Linked DNA regions of Homo sapiens: regions 1 and 2 are each linked to region 3. The links come from fine-mapping of genetic effects on plasma protein levels. A gene starts in region 3. Each other region holds a variant in brackets. All regions are shown on one strand. Distances are between the middles of the regions. Region 1 has its middle 15 kb from the start of NEU4. Region 2 holds the start of LOC124905350 (a long non-coding RNA gene). Region 3 holds the start of PDCD1 (programmed cell death 1).

Region 1 (2,665 bases), 35 kb before region 3:
TGATTTGCTATGCAGCCTCGGGAAACAGCTGTGTGGCCACCAGGGTCCCACCCTGCTCCCGCCTTCTGGGCTCCAGGACGCAGGTGTGGGACCCCTCACCATCCGCATGGCCCTCTGCTGTGCACTCTCCTTCTCGTTCGTGTCTGTGCTGCATTCTGGTTGGTTTTCCTTGGCTTTTTTTTTTTTCTAGTTCACGAATTCTCTCTTTGCTGTGTTTAATCAGCTGGGAGTTACTCTCTTGCTCCCTCTCTCCCTCCCCCATCCTTTCTCTGTCCTTGTCTCTCTGTCTCTGTGTCTGTCTCTGTTTCTCTTTGTGTTTGTGTCTCTCTCTGTCTCTGTGTCTTGGGCTGTCTCTCTTTGTGTTTGTGTCTGTCTCTTTCCGTGACTCTGTCTCCCTCTGTGTCTCTGACTCTGTGTCTCTGTCTCTCTGTGTCTCTGACTCTGTGTCTGTCTGTGTCTCTGACTCTGTGTCTCTGTCTCTCTGTGTCTCTGACTCTGTGTCTCTGTCTCTCTGACTCCGTGTCTCTTCTCTGTGTCTCTGAGTCTGTCTCTGTGTCTCTGTCTCTCTTTCTCTGTCTCTGAGTCTGTCTCTGTCTCTTTGTGTCTCTGACGCTTTCTGTCCCTGTCTCTCTCTGTGTCTCTGTCTCTGTGTCTCTGTCTCTGACTCTGTATCTCTGTCTCTCTATGTCTCTGACTCCGTGTCTCTGTCTCTCTCTGTGTCTGAGTCTGTCTCTGTGTCTCTGTCTCTCTTTCTCTGTGTCTCTGTCTCTGTGTCTCTGTCTCTCTGTCTCTGACTCTGTGTCTCTGTCTCTCTGTGTGTCTGTCTCTGTGTGTCTGTCTCTGTGTCTCTGTCTCTGTGTCTCTGTCTCCCTGTGTCTCTGTCTCTCTCTCTGTGTCTCTGTCTCTCTCTTTCTCTGTGTCTCTGTCTCCCTGTGTCTCTGTCTCTCTCTTTCTCTGTGTCTCTGTCTCTGTGTCTCTCTCTGTCTCTGTATCTCTGTCTCTCTGTCTCTGACTCTGTGTCTCTGTCTCTCTGTGTCTCTCTCTGTGTCTCTGTGTCTCTCTCTGTGTCTCTGTCTCCCTGTGTCTCTGTCTCTCTCTTTCTCTGTGTCTCTGTCTCTGT[GTC/G]TCTCTCTGTCTCTGTATCTCTGTCTCTCTGTCTCTGACTCTGTGTCTCTGTCTCTCTGTGTCTCTCTCTGTGTCTCTGTGTCTCTCTCTGTGTCTCTGTCTCCCTGTGTCTCTGTCTCTCTCTTTCTCTGTGTCTCTGTCTCTGTGTCTCTCTGTCTCTGTATCTCTGTCTCTCTGTCTCTGACTCTGTGTCTCTGTCGTGTCTCTGTGTCTCTCTCTGTGTCTCTGTGTCTCTCTCTGTGTCTCTGTCTCCCTGTGTCTCTGTCTCTCTCTTTCTCTGTGTCTCTGTCTCCCTTTGTGTTCTTCTCCACGACGTTCTCTTTGTCTGACTTTCTGCTCCTGCCGCGTGCGCAGAGGGGCGAGGAGGAAGCATTTGCGCATGCGCAGAAGGCTCGCTCCACGCCACGTGCTTCAAGCGCGTCGTTCCGTTTAGTATGAAATAAAGGCCCGCGGGGTGGAGAACGTGTCTGTTTTCCAGATGTGGAGATCAAGGCCCGGCAAGTCCTCTGTTGTTGACGGTTCTCAGGTGGTAGAAACGATCTCGCAGCGCACCTGCGTGGCTTCCGAAACCGTTGTCTCAAGCGTGTTCCACTTGATGTGATTAAAAAAGTTCTCGTGGCCCCAAGCACCTGCTTTACCTGCTCAGACCAGAGTGTCGTTCCGTCCCATTCATTCCGCAGCTTTCCCCGAACGCACACAAGTGAAATGTAAATGTCAGTGTGTGTGTATCTATCTCCCGTTTCTCCCAAAGCGAGACCGTCAGCTGCTATCACTGCACAGCGATGCGGGGACCAGGCCCGGTCCCTTCAGCCCGGGGCTTCGGCCCCCGGCGTTGTCTGACCCTCGTGCTCAGCTGTTCCTGCTTCTTCAGGTTCCCAAGGCATCCCCAGCCAGCTTCCCTCCTGCAAACCCCCACCCTGGGAGCTTGACCAATGACATCGACATCTTTCAATACTTGAATCCTGACTACTTCTTCTTCTTCTTCTTTTTTTTTTTTTGAGATAGAGTCTCTGTCTTCCAGGCTGGAGTGCCGTGTTGTGATATCTGCTCACTGCAACCTCGGCCTCCCGGGCTCAAGCGATTCTCCTGCTGTAGCCTCCTGAGTAGCTGGGATTACAGGCATCTGCCACTACGCCTGGCTAATTTTTGTATTTTTAGTAGAGATGGGGTTTCACCATGTTGGCCAGGCTGGTCTCAAACTCCTGACCTCAGGTAATCCGCCTGCCTCAGCCTCCCAAAGTGCTGGGATTACAGGTGTGAGCCACTGTGCCCAGCCTCATTCTTCTTCTTTTTTTTTTTTTTTTGAGATGAAGTCTCACTCTGTCGCCCAGGCTGGAGTGCAGTGGCGTGATCTCTGCTCACTGCAATCTTCACCTCTTAGGTTCAAGTGATTCTCCTGCCTCAGCCTCCTGAGTAGCTGGGATTACAGGCACGCACCACTATGCCCAGCTAATTTTTTGTAGTTTTAGTAGAGACAGGGTTTCACCACGTTGGTCAGACTGGTCTCAAACTCCTGACCTTATGATCCACCCACCTCCGCCTC
Region 2 (2,665 bases), 14 kb before region 3:
GTCCCACGCGCCCCGGCCTCCTCCCGGCACTGTCCCCCGGGGAGCCCCGAGGCCCGGCCACACCCAGGGCGCTCCTGAAGCCGCCGCAGCTGCTGTGCGAGGCCGGGCCGACCCGCCTGGGGCGCGTGGGTGGGGCGGGAGCGCAGCCGCAGCCCGGCGGCGACACAGGCCCGGGGCCAGCCGGGGACGGAAAAAGTGAGTGCGCGGCGGCGCGGGGCGGCCTGACGGGAAGGCGGGAGGCGAAGTGCTGACTGCGCCGCGGTCTCTCAGCCGCCAACACACCGCGGACGCCCGGGGACAGCGACCGCTTCCTCCCTCCCCGCCCGCCTTGTCTCTTTTTGTGAGTATCGATCTGAGCTCATGTTCTTTTTAACGTACTCAAAGTGTGTCAATCAATTAGGCTTTTTTTTTTTTTTTTTTTGACAGGGTCTTGCTCTGTCGCCCAGGCTGGAGTCAGTGGCACCATCGTGGCTCACTGCGGCCTCCACCTCCGGGACTCCAGGGATCCTCCCGCCTCAGCCTCCCGAGGAGCTGGGACCACCGCACCTGGCTAATTTTAAAATTTTTCCTTAGAGACAGGATCTCACTTTGCTGCCCAGGCTGGTCTCAAACTCCTGGGCTCAAGCGACCCTCCCGCCTCGGCCTCCCAAAGTGCCACCGTGCCAAGCCTCAGTTAGGTTTTTAATTTTAATTTGGCATTGTTTGATGCTCAGACTGCTGCCGTGTCATTTTCACACGACAGCAAGTTGGGGACAGCGAGTTGTTCTGTCCTGCGCGTGTGTCCCCTCATGGTCTTGAGTGACCTGACCCTCTGTGGGGAGCCCTGAGCCTCCTCCCTGCTCCCGCGGCCCCAGCTCTCAGCTGATGGAGGCTCCGGGGCGGGCTCAAGCCCCCGGCCGGCTTTGGACGGCTTTGCCGTTGCCGAGCCAGCGCCGTGAGCTCGTGGGCTCTGCGTCTGCACATGTTTGCCGGTGACCTCTGGGAAGTGTTTCGACGAGGATGGGGGTTGAGGGGGCAAAGGGCAAGTGCCCACCGC[C/T]TACCAGACAGCACCGGTGCGTCTCCAGCTCGGCTTCCCCGCCAGCCCCTCAGGCCTGCTCCCTGCTGCCTCGCCAACAGCCGCACCGTTGTCAGAGCTCTGTCAGCCTGGTGGATGTAGTTTCAACTTGTATTTTTGTTGAGAGAACCTGAACAACCTTTCATTGTTTAAGGGATATGGGTATGCACGCAGGCACTGCCGTATATACATATATTGTAGATACACACGTCCGCACACCTGTACACACACACCCACACACATACCCCTGTGTATGTACATACACACATTTGTATGCACACATATGTCTACACACGTGTAGACACGTGCACACACAGGCTCACGCACACACATTTTCTCTGAGCTGTTGGGTTATGTCTCCTGCACTTTCTCGTGTATTTTTGACCTTGCTTTTTCCAGACTCTTAGATCTTCCTACGACTGGCATATTCGCTCTTTTGTGGTGGTGCAAACATTTTCCCTCAGTTTGTTTATGATTTTTTTTGCCAAGCTAAAGTTTTTTGTTTTCCAATATATGGAGTTCAGTGTATCAGTCTTCTCTTTAATTGTTGCCTGATGTCCTTTATTCATTGGGAATGCCTTCCCCTCCCACACTGCAAGAATGCACCCACGGTTTCTTGTTTCTTGTAGGGTTCCTTTTTTTTTCTTTTTTGAGACGGAGTCTTGCTGTGTCGCCCAGGCTGGAGTGCAGTGGCATGATCTCGGCTCACTGCAAGCTCCGCCTCCCGGGTTCACGCCATTCTCCTGCCTCAGCCTCCCGAGTAGCTGGGACCACAGGTGCCCGCCACCATGCCCGGCTAATTTTTTGTGTTTTTAGTAGAGACAGGGTTTCACCGTGTTAGCCAGGATGGTCTCAATCTCCTGACCTTGTGATCCACCCGCCTCGACCTCCCAAAGTGCTGGGATCACAGGCGTGAGCCACCACGCGCGGCCAGGGTTCTTTTTGTATGCTTTTCTCTCTGCTGCATTTGGGATTTTGTGCATATGAGTCTAACTTAATACTTTTCCAGATGGCTATCCCTATCCCTGGGCAGTTGGTTAAAAAGTCGTTTTTCCCCTCACTGATTTGGGTCGCAGGGACTGGGCCTGTTCCTGTGTCTTCTGGTGCTTATCCCACCCTGTTTTCATTACAGTAAGTTTCCCCTGAGCTCATAAAGCTGGTCCTCTTTCACTTTCTTTTCATGGTTTTTTTGGCTGTTACTTGCTTGTTAATTTTTCCATATGAGCATGGTAGTTCCAGAACTGTGGTTTTTACTGGGATCGTATTAAATTTACAAATTGTATCGGAAGAACGTGCATGTTTGCAGCTGTGGCGCCTCTTCGGGGCCCGGGGGTCAGGGTGCCTTTGATTGAGTTCAGCCTCTGCGGCAGCTTTCCCACGTTTCTGGCTAGGTTTATGCCGGGAGCATCTTCTCTCTTGCTGTCCTAGATGAAACATCGCCCGCCACTCCGTCTCCTAGCGCACTGTGCTGTGAATGGGGTGAATGGGTGTATGAGAGCCGTGAATTTTGGACGCTGGCGCGCTGCGCTGTGAATGGGTGTTTGAGAGCCTTGAGTTCTGGATGCTAGCGCGCTGCGCTGTCAATGGATGAATGAGAGCCGTGAGTTCTGG
Region 3 (2,650 bases):
GGGGGTGTCAGGGCGGCCCCAGGGGTGCCCCTCATCTTGTCCTCCCAGTGGTGTCACACCCCGGTACCCAGCAGGGCCCAGAGGGACTGTCTTAGGCTTGGCCTGGGTGAAACCACCCTCCCCAGGCCTTGGCATCCCCAGGTGCAGGCTGGCTGGGCACAGAGGGCCAGCCGGGCACAGAGGGTCCAGGAGCGGGCTGTGGTCACAGTGTACACAGAGGGCCCAGGGTCACGGGCAGCCCAGGAAGAGGCTCCCTCTCTCCTCGATCCGGGAGAGTGAGGCCAAGGCCTCCCCCACGGATGGTCTGAACAGGGCTCGGGGAGAGCCCTGGAATCTGGGCAGAGACCCAGGCGGGCACAATCCCCACCCAGGAGGGATCCTGGAGACAGAAGAACTGTCCTCACTCGAACAGGTACACTTTGGATATAATGAGAAAAATATCACCAGCTCATCTAAACTTTGACGTCGTAAAGCCAAGGTTAGTCCCACATGGGGCTCATCCCATCCTTAGGAAAACTCGAGTGAGGACCAAGGATGCCTGGGCAAGGCAGAGCCGCCACGCAGACTCCCCACGGCCAAGGTTTGGGGTTCTGGCCAGCCTGACCCGTCATTCTACAGAAACACGCAGCCCCAAGGACCGGCTGAGAGGGGACAGAGGTCCTGCCTGCCCAGGAGCAAAGAGGGGACTTGGGCCAGGGGAGGAGTTGGGGCCCAGAGAGGAACCCAGGAGTTCGAGCTGCCCAAAGCCACACAGCTCAGGGTAAGGGGCAGAGCTGGGGGCCAAGGCTGGGCCTGCCACAGCACCCCCCGACCTGCCAGGGACTGAGAGTGAAAGGTCCCTCCAGACCCCTCGCTCCGGGACCCCTGGGCTGCCAGGGCCAGGCCCGCCTCAGCACCCCCCGACCTGCCAGGGACTGAGGGTGGAAGGTCCCTCCAGACCCCTGGCTCTGGGACACCTGACCGCCGACCCCACCTACCTAAGAACCATCCTGGCCGCCAGCCCAGTTGTAGCACCGCCCAGACGACTGGCCAGGGCGCCTGTGGGATCTGCATGCCTGGAGCAGCCCCACCAGAGTGCCGCCTTCTCCACTGCTCAGGCGGAGGTGAGCGGAAGGGAAACTGTCCCAGGTCAGGTTGAAGGGAGGGTGCCCGCCCCTTGCTCCCGCCCCCTCTTCCTCCACATCCACGTGGGCGAGAGTGACAGAGGCAGTGCTGGGGGAGGAGGGGTGAGGAGGGGGTAGGACTGGGGAGAGGGTGGGGGAGGGAGAGAGAGACAGAGACAGGGAGACAGAGGAGATGGGGAGGAGGTGGGCCCGTGGCCCCCACGCCCTACCCCGTGGGGGTCTCCCCAGCTCAGGGCCCCTTCCTCCTCTGTGTCTCTGCTCACTGCTGTGGCCTCTTTCCATATCCCGCCCGAGCTGCCCCTCCTGAGGCTGCCGGGTGGGGGCAGGCCCTTCTCCTCCCCCATCCCCCCCATCTCCCTGGGGGCCGGGCCTCCCTGCCTGGGGAAGGTGGGTGGCCCCCTCTGGGCTCAGGTTCCTGGGCTGCAGTGAGGGGTGGGCTCAACCCCACTCCCATTCTGTCGGAGCCTCTGGGAGCCTCCCGGCTGCCCACAGCCTCTGCCCCTGCTGGGGGCAGGTGCCTGGCCTCTGCCTTCCCGGCCCATCCCCCTTCGCTGGGGCACAGGTGACCCTACTGAATGACAACTGTCCATGGCTAATCGGCTCCCCCTCAAAGCTTCCACCTTGTGGATGGCCTCACACCATGGCCACAGTTCCAGATCTTTCCACCGTGTGATGCCTGCAACAGCCTGACGGGGGGGCTGGGGCGGTGGCAGGGGCTGGCTGTGAGGCTGACCTCCCCTTCCAGCCTTGACCTTCTTCCCCGGGGCCCTGCCCTCCAGCCCACTCGTGCCAGGGTGGGGTGGTTCAGGGGGTCCAGTGCCTGGGCCTGGCTGGCGGCCCGGCGTTTGTGAAATGGCTTGCTTATCTCCTTGTATTCTGTGCTGAGCATTTTATTACAGCGAATGGAAAACAGGAGAAATGAAACTGCTGATATTAGTGATGAGATGCGTCAGGCTCATCAGCTTAAAATAACCGAAGCGAGGCTAGAAACCGCCTGACAGCTGGCGCGGCTGCCTGGCTCCGAGAGACACTCGGCCCGGCTCTGAAGGGAAAACATTAAAGCACCGAAACAGTGGAAAAAGAGCATCAAAGATGATGTCTGCGAGGCGCGGCCACGGCGAGGAAGCTCTCGTTTATGAACAAAGGGCCACTCCCGGGTCTCAGAGATGTGAGGCTGTGTGGGTGGCTTGGTGGGGAGGTGGGGGGGGCCCAGCTGGCCAGGTGGGCTTGGCGGGGGGCCCCCAGGGAGCCTGGCAGCACCCACTGTGCTGCCAGACAGCTAAGGTGGCCCGCAGCAACTGTCTCCTGGCACACCCACCCTTGTGCCTCAGGGGCTGGGGCTCTGGGGCTGGAGAACTGTTGGTTGGTAGGTGCCTCCATAGCCCTGTGCCTCGCCCAGGCAGTGGATAAGTGGCTAAGCTGCCCCTGCTGGCTGTACTTGTCCTGAAGGCAGATTCTGGACAGAACCTCCCTCTGCCCCCAGCCCTGTAGAGCCTTGTTCCAACCTCTGTTGAATGCTGTCTCTG

The links. PIP is the chance, under the fine-mapping model, that this variant and not a neighbour inherited with it causes the effect. Protein levels are from antibody-based Olink assays in UK Biobank. Linkage for the fine-mapping came from a reference panel and not from the study's own genotypes, which makes the PIPs less certain.
Region 1: its variant is fine-mapped to the plasma level of the PDCD1 protein (UK Biobank, PIP above 0.99).
Region 2: its variant is fine-mapped to the plasma level of the PDCD1 protein (UK Biobank, PIP above 0.99).

Annotation. Positions count from the first base shown.
Region 1 is chr2:241,822,436-241,825,100 of GRCh38, forward strand. No RefSeq gene overlaps it. Among named protein-coding and RNA genes, the nearest start is that of NEU4, 15 kb to the left of the region's middle. The variant GTC/G (reference allele first, on the strand shown) is at 1,121.
Region 2 is chr2:241,844,139-241,846,803 of GRCh38, forward strand. It overlaps LOC124905350 (a long non-coding RNA gene), which reads left to right and starts at 29. Exons shown (of 2, transcript XR_007088410.1): 1 at 29-340; 2 at 427-2,342. The variant C/T (reference allele first, on the strand shown) is at 1,037.
Region 3 is chr2:241,857,786-241,860,435 of GRCh38, forward strand. PDCD1 (programmed cell death 1) reads right to left here and starts at 1,109. Exons shown (of 5, transcript NM_005018.3): 1 at 978-1,109. The coding sequence starts at 1,053. It overlaps LOC124908032 (a long non-coding RNA gene), which reads left to right and starts at 1,287. Exons shown (of 2, transcript XR_007088436.1): 1 at 1,287-2,292. RefSeq lists an enhancer at 315-1,277.